Linked DNA regions of Homo sapiens: region 1 is linked to region 2. Evidence: fine-mapped expression QTL. Tissue or cell type: blood mononuclear cells. Region 2 holds a variant in brackets; the other region holds the start of a gene. All regions are shown on one strand. Distances are between the middles of the regions. Region 1 holds the start of SH3BGRL (SH3 domain binding glutamate rich protein like). Region 2 overlaps LOC105373284 (a long non-coding RNA gene).

Region 1 (4,000 bases), 160 kb after region 2:
TCTGAATCTAAAATAAAAGTTGAAATCTAAATAAAAAAAAAAAGGAGTCCAATAAAGGAAATAATAGAAGACAGCAGCCATTTCTAAGGCTCTTGGAAACTTAAGACTTAACAAAGAGAGGTGCAGTTATTCTTACTTGAATAGAAATTCTGAAAGCAGTTTCTTGTTGAATCTACTTTTAAAGAAGGGGTAGAGGAAGGAGAAAGCAAAGAATAAATAACAGTATTGAAACTGTATGACTCCCAAAGCAAAACTAACTGCCTGATCTGTTCAGTCTCATTAGGGGTTTAACTAAAGGCATTAAGTTGGACTTTACAATTATTGGATTGAGTTGAGACTCTGAGCAACTCAAATTTTACTTTGAAATATTAGACAACATGTATGGAAAATAATAAAGCAAGAGGCTCATAAAATTAGGTCCAAAGGAAATATAAAAGGTGTTCTTTTTTTTAACCTAAACTTATTCAAAAAATGTAAGATTAAATTTTCTGATATTCCAAAATTGCATAAACATATCCACACATGGTGGCCAGAGAAGACAAAGTTCAAATATCAAGGTTCTTGTGATTTAACATAACCTCCACTTCCATTCCACATCCTCTCAGGTGTAAATAAACAAGCCAAAAAATAAAAACACACAACAACCTGGATTAGCTGCTGCTCTAAAGCTCAAGAAGAGGGAAGGGGTTCCTATACCCTACAATCTGAACCCACACATCTGTTCTTGCCACTGTCTGCCTTTCTCTTGAGTTGTAAAAAGCAGAAGCACTTTCATTTATCATGGATATACACTCATCTTGCACCCCAGTTTATCATATTCTCCCGACAGCTGCTGAAAATTTGTTATTCTAAATTAAGAGTAAGTGAATCCATGAAAGAGAAAGTCCTATCATTTGAAGCAGCAGCAACTCAGGCTGCCACTACACAAGAAGCCACTGAGCTCCCTATCCAGTTCTCAATATACTTGAAGCAGTGAGAGAAATTTAAAAGTAAAATATTTTGAAAGAATAGAAACAGTCAAAATAAGGGACAATATGGGGGGAAAACTGAATCTCGTGTCATATTAAGTTAAAAAAAAATTTACGTCATTGTTACCAACTTCCCCTCCCAATTTGTCTAGTTCTAACAGGCCTTCAAGCTCAAGTTAACCACTTTCTTCTACACACTCTCAAAATAACTCTATTACCAGGGTCTCACTCACCCAGAATAATTACAATGCCTCGGTAGGCCTCCACTCAATCCCCACCAGTTACAGCATGTGTACCCCCATCCTTTACAGAAGTGCACTCCTCCTTGTCTCAGTACTTAGGGCGTATTCATCAAATGTCTCACTCTTGAAACTCACCAGTGTGCGATTTTACTTGACTTCACGTAACCCTAAAGACCGTATAGCACCATCTCCCATCTCCCAAAACTTGGTAGCTTTCGTTTTCCTTCAAAGCAGAAATGTGCCCCCCAACGTCACGAAGCAAACAAAGCTGAACTCTATGTGGAAAAAAAAAAAAATGAAATCGATGCAACAAAGGGAAAAAAGGGAAGAAGAAGGGTGGGATCGGGGATGCATGAGTCTTCCAAAGGAGAAGCTGCCAGAGGAACTTCTGCATTTTAATGGTTCTGGGGCAGCAGAGGACTGGTGTGTAGGAAAACAACAAAGGTGGACTCCCCACTCTCCTTACCGCTGTAGAGCCAGAGGAAGATGCAATATATACACGGATCACCATCCTGGGAACAGCGGCTGCGGTTGTTTGGGTCCTGAAAAGGGCTGTGGAGCAGCTGCAGCAATGGCTGGAATCCAGCTAGGGGCTGAAACAGCGGTTGGCAGAGAAGGGTGGGGGAAGGTGGAAGGAGAACTCGCCAGAGCCCCGCCTCCGCCTTTAGCAGCTTCCACCGAGCTCTCTAAGCGCTGCAGTTCCAGCCCAAAACCCCGGAAGGAACAGGCTGTTTGCATCAATTCTATTTTTTTTTAATAGGGAATCTCGAATAGCACCGCGAGATCTGTTGAAACATTGATTTTTGACGATTCCTTCCCTGAGAAGAGGGCGAGGAGAAGAAGAAAGAAAAAGGAGAACTGAATTGAATTAGATTAGCATGAAGGACCTTTTCACGCGGAGACTAAAAGTACTGCGCATAACTTCCTGCTCAGAAATATATGCAAATAAGAAGACAGATCCTGAAAGAGCAAGCTGTATGTTGAAAACCCATGTTCTCAAAGCCTTGCGCATTTTAAGATTCCTATTACGTAGTGATTTTTCTGATCTTAGCTCGTTGTAGGAATTAGGCACTAAAGTACTGAGCAATGCTGCAGAGTTTTGAAGGAAAGTTTCAGGTTTCCTTAAGCCCAGAAATGGCAGGATTGGTTTTCTTTTTGAATTTTGTGTTTTGTTAAATTAGGGAACCCTGCTTCCGTGGGAATTTGCAGGAGGCCTGATTGGCAAGTTTAAGAATGAAGGAATAAATTACAAAGAAAAGATTGAAAATATTGTGTAAAAAGATGGATGATTTTTGTTTTGTTTTGCTTTTTAACTGACTGAAGTAAGGGATTTGGGAGAACATATTGCAGATGTTGAAATGGTGAAGAGAGAGATCAGATGGTTATTTGTAGCTCTAAGGAAATGAGCAAACAGTTAATAATGTCCAGAGACAGACCATATACTTCAAAGTGTAGTTTTAGGTTCCCAGATTATGTTAAATGAACAGAAAAAAAGGAATTTGCAAGATGAATGAGAGTGGAGAGGAGTCAGTCGCTTGTCCTACTTCTTTTCCTTTGCTGTTTTTCCACTGTCTCCAGTCTAGTGGTTTACTGTCTTTGCCTAGGCTCAGTGCTTACAATAGCTTTGTTAACTGTTCCCTACCCACAGGTTTTCCCTTCTCCAATCTGTCTTAAATACTAATTCCAAATTAATCTCTTTACATGTTGTCCTTAAAACAACCTCAAGAGGTGGGTACTATTACATTAATTTTACAGATGAAGAAACTGAAACTCAGAAAAATAGTTTTCCTAAAATCATATGGTTAGTACATTCCAGAGTTAGGAACTCCAGAGGCCACCTTCTTATTTTTTTTTAATTATACTTTAAATTCTAGGGTACATGTGCACAACGTGCAGGTTTGTTACATAGGTATACATGTGCCATGTTGGTTTGCTGCACCCATCAACTCGTTGTTTACATTAGGTATTTCACCTAATGCTATCACTCCTCCAGCCCCCCACCCCCCGACTGGCCCCGGGGTGTGATGTTCCCTGTCCTGTGTCCATGTGTTCTCATTGTTCAACTCCCACATATGAGTGAGAACATGTGGTGTTTGGTTTTCTGTCCTTGTGATAGTTTGCTTAGAATGATGGTTTCCAGCTTCATCCATGTCCCTGCAAAGGACATGAACTCATCCTTTTCTATGGCTGCATAGTATTCCATGGTGTACATGTGCCACATTTTCTTAATCCAGTCTATCACTGGGACATTTGAGTTGGTTCCAAGTCTTTGCTATTATGAATAGTGCTGCAATAAACATACATGTGCATGTGTCTTTATTATAGAAAGATTTATAATCCTTTGGGTATATGCTCAGTAATGAGATTGCTGGGTCAAATGACATTTCTAGTCTAGATCCTTGGGGGATCGCCACACTGTCTTCCACAATGGTTGAACTAATTTACACTCCCACCAACAGTATAAAAGCATTCCTATTTCTCCAAACCCTCTCCAGCATCTGTTGTATGATTGCCATTCTAACTAGCATGAGATGGTATTTCATTGTGGTTTTGATTTGCATTTCTCTCATGACCAGTGATGATGAGCATTTTTGCATATGTCTGTTGGCTGCATAAATGTCTTCTTTTGAGAAATGTCTGTTCATATCCTTTGCCCACATTTTGATGGGGTTGTTTTTTTCTTGTAAATTTGTTTAAGTTCTTCGTAGATTCTGGATATTAGCCCTTTGTCAGATGAGTAGATTGCAAAAATTTTCTCCCATTCTGTAGGTTGCCTGTTCACTCTGATGA
Region 2 (4,544 bases):
TGAGGAAAAGAACATAACAATGTAACTGAGGACCAAAAGCTCCAAATTGCCCCTAGGTAATAAAAGGACACCTAGCTTAATTTTAACACTGTGATAACTATTTTGCTTTCAAATTATTATTTCATTTTTTCATGGATTTTCACACATACATAGTTGACTGGCTAAATTTCCATGCAAGTGACTAGTTATGAAAACATTAAACTACATTTAATTTGATTTAATAGATATCTGTTGATATTAATTTGTTGATTTCTTTCTGCATTGACTAAAAAAAATCATTCCTTTAACTACACAATTATTCCAGTTTATCAGTTTATCCTACACACTAATTCTCATCAAGTCACCTCTCCACCCTTCATCCACACATACATTACGTAATAATGCTAAGTTAGCCATTTACCTCTTCAAAGTAAACTATCTTAAAAAATATATTCCTTTAATTTTTTAACAGGAAAATAATTTCGTGGTATTAGATACTTCCATCCCCAAAGCAGGAACTATTTACTTTGTTTCTCCATTTCCAAAAACAAGTTTTAGTAAGACCCAGAAAGTCTGCTTACAACCTTGAATGGACCATCACAGTGTTAGGTCCAGTCTTAATAACCTCGGGGAGACTGGCTTCTTTTGAGGACTAACCTATAAGACAAAATGAGCCTGAAAATTCCAGGAGTACAGTATAGACTGTATCTCTTAAATAGGTGTTGGTGTTTAAAGGACACTCTTGACAGAAAACTTCCTGAGACTTGGTCAAATCTACTTTGGGACCCACAATAGTGACCTGAAATCCAAAGACGGGATGTAAATTAAACTGATCTATATAAGCAGGGAGCAACATTGTATTCAGCATCCTTCATAAACTCCTTGACTTTTTTTCCTACCAGAAAACATGATGATCCTCCCCAACGACTGAATCATTTACATTTTGTATATTCATAGAAGCACAAAACGAATACTTTCAACTTCTGCAAATGTGAGACAAAAAGAAATTTATTATTCCATACATTTCAAAAAATGTTTTGAAAGGGAACATTATGGTCATATAAATAATACCGATGGTGAACAACAGAATGAAGAATGACTACTTAAAGCCAAACTATGCTAAATCACAACGTCATATGCATATTTCATTCAAGCACTGAAGTCAGTAGGTATGAGGTCAGGATAAAACGTAACACCAAATTCATCATCTTTCCTTACTTAAGAATTGCATTATATTTTTAAACCATTTTAACCATAAGTGAGTATCTTTAGATGATAAATATTTTGATGACACAGATAAAGAGGGGGAAATTTTAAATATGAGAGCGTAATTAAATGCATTTATAAATTTGATATATACTAAATACTGTGGTTTTGTATATGATACTATGTAATTTCAACACTTTATGAATATATCTGTTTCATAAAATATTAATACATATTACTGGACCTAAGAAAACAATCCACACTAGTAATACTGTCCCATGATATTTAATTCACTTTTGTAAATGTTAACATTAATATTTCATAATTTTAGTAACTCTCCTATTAAAATGCCGAAATTTAACAGCATAAAAGACAATATACATACAACTTTTTTTCAATATCTAAAGATACTGAGTTACTTTAAACTCTTACTCATTGTCTCTTCAGAATCAAATGTCTGAATGATAAACATTAATTGGTATGGTTATGGTAGAGGATGGTGTGGAAGGGAGCAATAAAGAGAAAAACAGAAGACAAATCAGGGGTACTTACTATTATTAGATCATATACATTTGAAGAGGGTGAAAATAAACGAAGTATTGTGTGATCATAAAAAACGAGCTATTAGGGCATTACAGTGACTCATTCTACAAGAGTTAATCAAAGACCCAAGAAAAAATTGGAAGGGATGGAAGGGAATATATGATTGTCAATGCACAAATCTTATTAATGCATAATGCAATTGTAAGAATTCTATAACAGAAATTAATACCATTTTATTTTACAACACAGAAGTGCATGTCTATCATTTTCCTATTTCTATTAAAAGTATGGAGTCTTCTTTCCAAGTCTGCAATAAATTATACTGTTACTTTAGATATATTTTGTTAATTTATTTAATTTGGATCC[G/A]AAAATTTCCATAATAAACTACTGCCAGGATCATGATTGAGGATAATCTGATGTGTAATAAGTTGCTGAGAACCTTTTTATTTCTAAATGGTGGTTCTCTACTTTCTTCACTCTACCTGTGTGTTTTTTTTCCTCCCATCTCTAAAAACAACCAGAGATAACAGTGATATAAAACAGTTAATGCTCGTTCCAGGAAAGTTCCAAAGCACCAAGTTTCAATATAAATGGTACTTACAAATTTTCCATTTTTCCTTAAGCCCTCCCTCCATGTTTCTTTCAAACATCATTTAAATTTGACTTTTGTTTAAAGTATTTCCTTTTATATGTCCCCATACTCAATCTTGATATATAGATATCCACATATAGATATCCAGATATAGATATCCACATATAGATATCCAGATATAGATATCCACATATAGATATCCAGATATAGATATCCATATCCATAACTACATATCATAATTTCCCCTAGACTATTTTGATTGTCAGTATAAATGCGTTTTTGTGGGGAAATAAATGTCCCTCTCTGATATACCTTCTCATGGTCCTTCAGTATCTTGGAGCAATAATCCACTCCTCATCCCATTTTTGTTGTAAATAAAGCTGTGCGACACTGAGGTAATTGATTTGGGGTGCCAGTGACAATTAAATAGGTAAACGCATACAGAGTTTAGTTTGGCAACTATTAAAATATCAACACATTAAGAACTTGCACTCTAAAACGTAGTTACTATAGTTGTCTCCTATAAGAATTCAGATGTACCATGGGTCAAATCATTTCTCAAAAACTATAATAACCACACCCCAAAGAAGGCTAGATGTGACATGATAAGCTAGAAAAAACTCTTGTTATTGCAGTCTCTTAAGTCTGTCCAAACAACCTACATTTGTTATCTACTGTAGATGTGATAGAAGTTCCCTACTTGTCTGGTTCGATATTTGTAAGTCAGGGGTACTGAATTAAGAACTCTTTCCACTCTTTCCATGAGAAATGTTACACAGATTACATAGTGGTAGAGTGTAGGGCAGCTTCCTGAGCTTTCCATAACTCAATGTTCTGCTCTTGAGAGATTTGAAAGCTGATGTAATTTACATTATTCATTAGCAAATTGGAAGCCATAAGATTGGTTACAGAGTGGCATCTGGTGAGATTTTCTTCCAATAATTGTTTGCAGAGCTAGTCCACCTTTCTTTCCATATAAGTATTAAGCATAGAATTAGAGAGGGGCTGTTTATGAAACAACATACTTTTTTCTTGGCTTTCATCCCCATTCAATAATTTTGAGGTAGGTAATGTCTCTAGAGGCCCAATGACAGGAGAATGACCCAGTGGCCTACCAACTGAAAACAAAAGGGGACCATTAAAAACATCATTATGTGTGTGTTCCGTAAAGCAGCCTGAATCACACATGTTCCTCACATCGTCACCTCCAATCTGTAGGTCAGAATAATTGTGACAAATACTCATACACAACCAGGATCTATATAAATCTAGTTGTCTTTGATCATGTTTTTCTCTCTTTGAAATGGGCAACGCAACTGACACATTTCCTGGAAGAGGTAATACCTTTGCATTTTGCTACAGTTGTCTCATCCACAGATTTTATTTGATCTGTATCATCATTTTGCTCTGTTACACTTTCTTTCCTAGTTGTTTCTTGATTTTCCATCTTAGCAGAGGAAAGTGAATTTTCTTCTCTATCTAAAATCTTCTTTTTCCAAGTTTCCTTTTCAGTCTTCTTACATGTAAATGGTTTGCAAAATTTTGCATATTTCTGTTCTTTGTACAGAAGATCAATTAGGAAAGCTTCTCTAAGCATTTTGTTAGACAAGTTTTACAAAGTAAGTTTCTAGTATATTCCTGTAATATAAAATAACTCATTAAGGCAATGTACATTAAAAATGTCAAATAAGTATTTAACTCCTACGTGAAATAAAAGTAATTTAGGGAAGCCGTGTTGCTCAAAGTTTAGGAAATAGGACCAGGAATAACTAAACCTGGGTTTCCGTTCTGCAATGAACTTTTAACATAAGCTAATTTATTTAACATTTTGCGGTCTCAAATTTTTCAGCAGTTAAATGATGATACTGCACACATCATTTAATGAATCTTCACGGGACTATTGTCAGTGTAATATTATATGGTGCACATGCAAGTGTTAGAAGTACAAACATACAAATGTATAATTATTATATTCAACTATCTTTAAGGGTTTATTTAGAAATGATAAACTTTCTATCTTCAAAGAGTCTACTTAAAATGAAGGCAGCTGTCAAGGAATTGGTTTTAACTATCCTTTTTAATTAATGTCATTTGAGTCATAGATTGAAGTAAATTACTATACCTTAGAATGTATATAAGATGTGGAAATTTATATACAGTTTGGACTCCTGCAAATTTGTTGATTGAAAACATAAATACAGCCACTTTACTTTTTGAATAATGT

The links. PIP is the estimated chance that this variant, and not a neighbour inherited with it, causes the effect.
Region 1: SH3BGRL starts here. The variant in region 2 is the best candidate, but not a certain one, in a credible set for the expression of SH3BGRL in blood mononuclear cells (TOPMed, PIP 0.61).

The regions. Positions count from the first base shown.
Region 1 is chrX:81,199,922-81,203,921 of GRCh38, reverse strand. SH3BGRL (SH3 domain binding glutamate rich protein like) reads right to left here and starts at 1,820. Exons shown (of 4, transcript NM_003022.3): 1 at 1,677-1,820. The coding sequence starts at 1,721. It overlaps HMGN5 (high mobility group nucleosome binding domain 5), which reads left to right and starts at 2,009. Exons shown (of 7, transcript NM_030763.3): 1 at 2,009-2,185. RefSeq lists enhancers at 1,625-1,794, 1,915-2,164.
Region 2 is chrX:81,362,641-81,367,184 of GRCh38, reverse strand. It overlaps LOC105373284 (a long non-coding RNA gene), which reads right to left. Exons shown (of 2, transcript XR_007068280.1): 2 at 970-3,958. Among named protein-coding and RNA genes, the nearest start is that of SH3BGRL, 160 kb to the right of the region's middle. The variant G/A (reference allele first, on the strand shown) is at 2,095.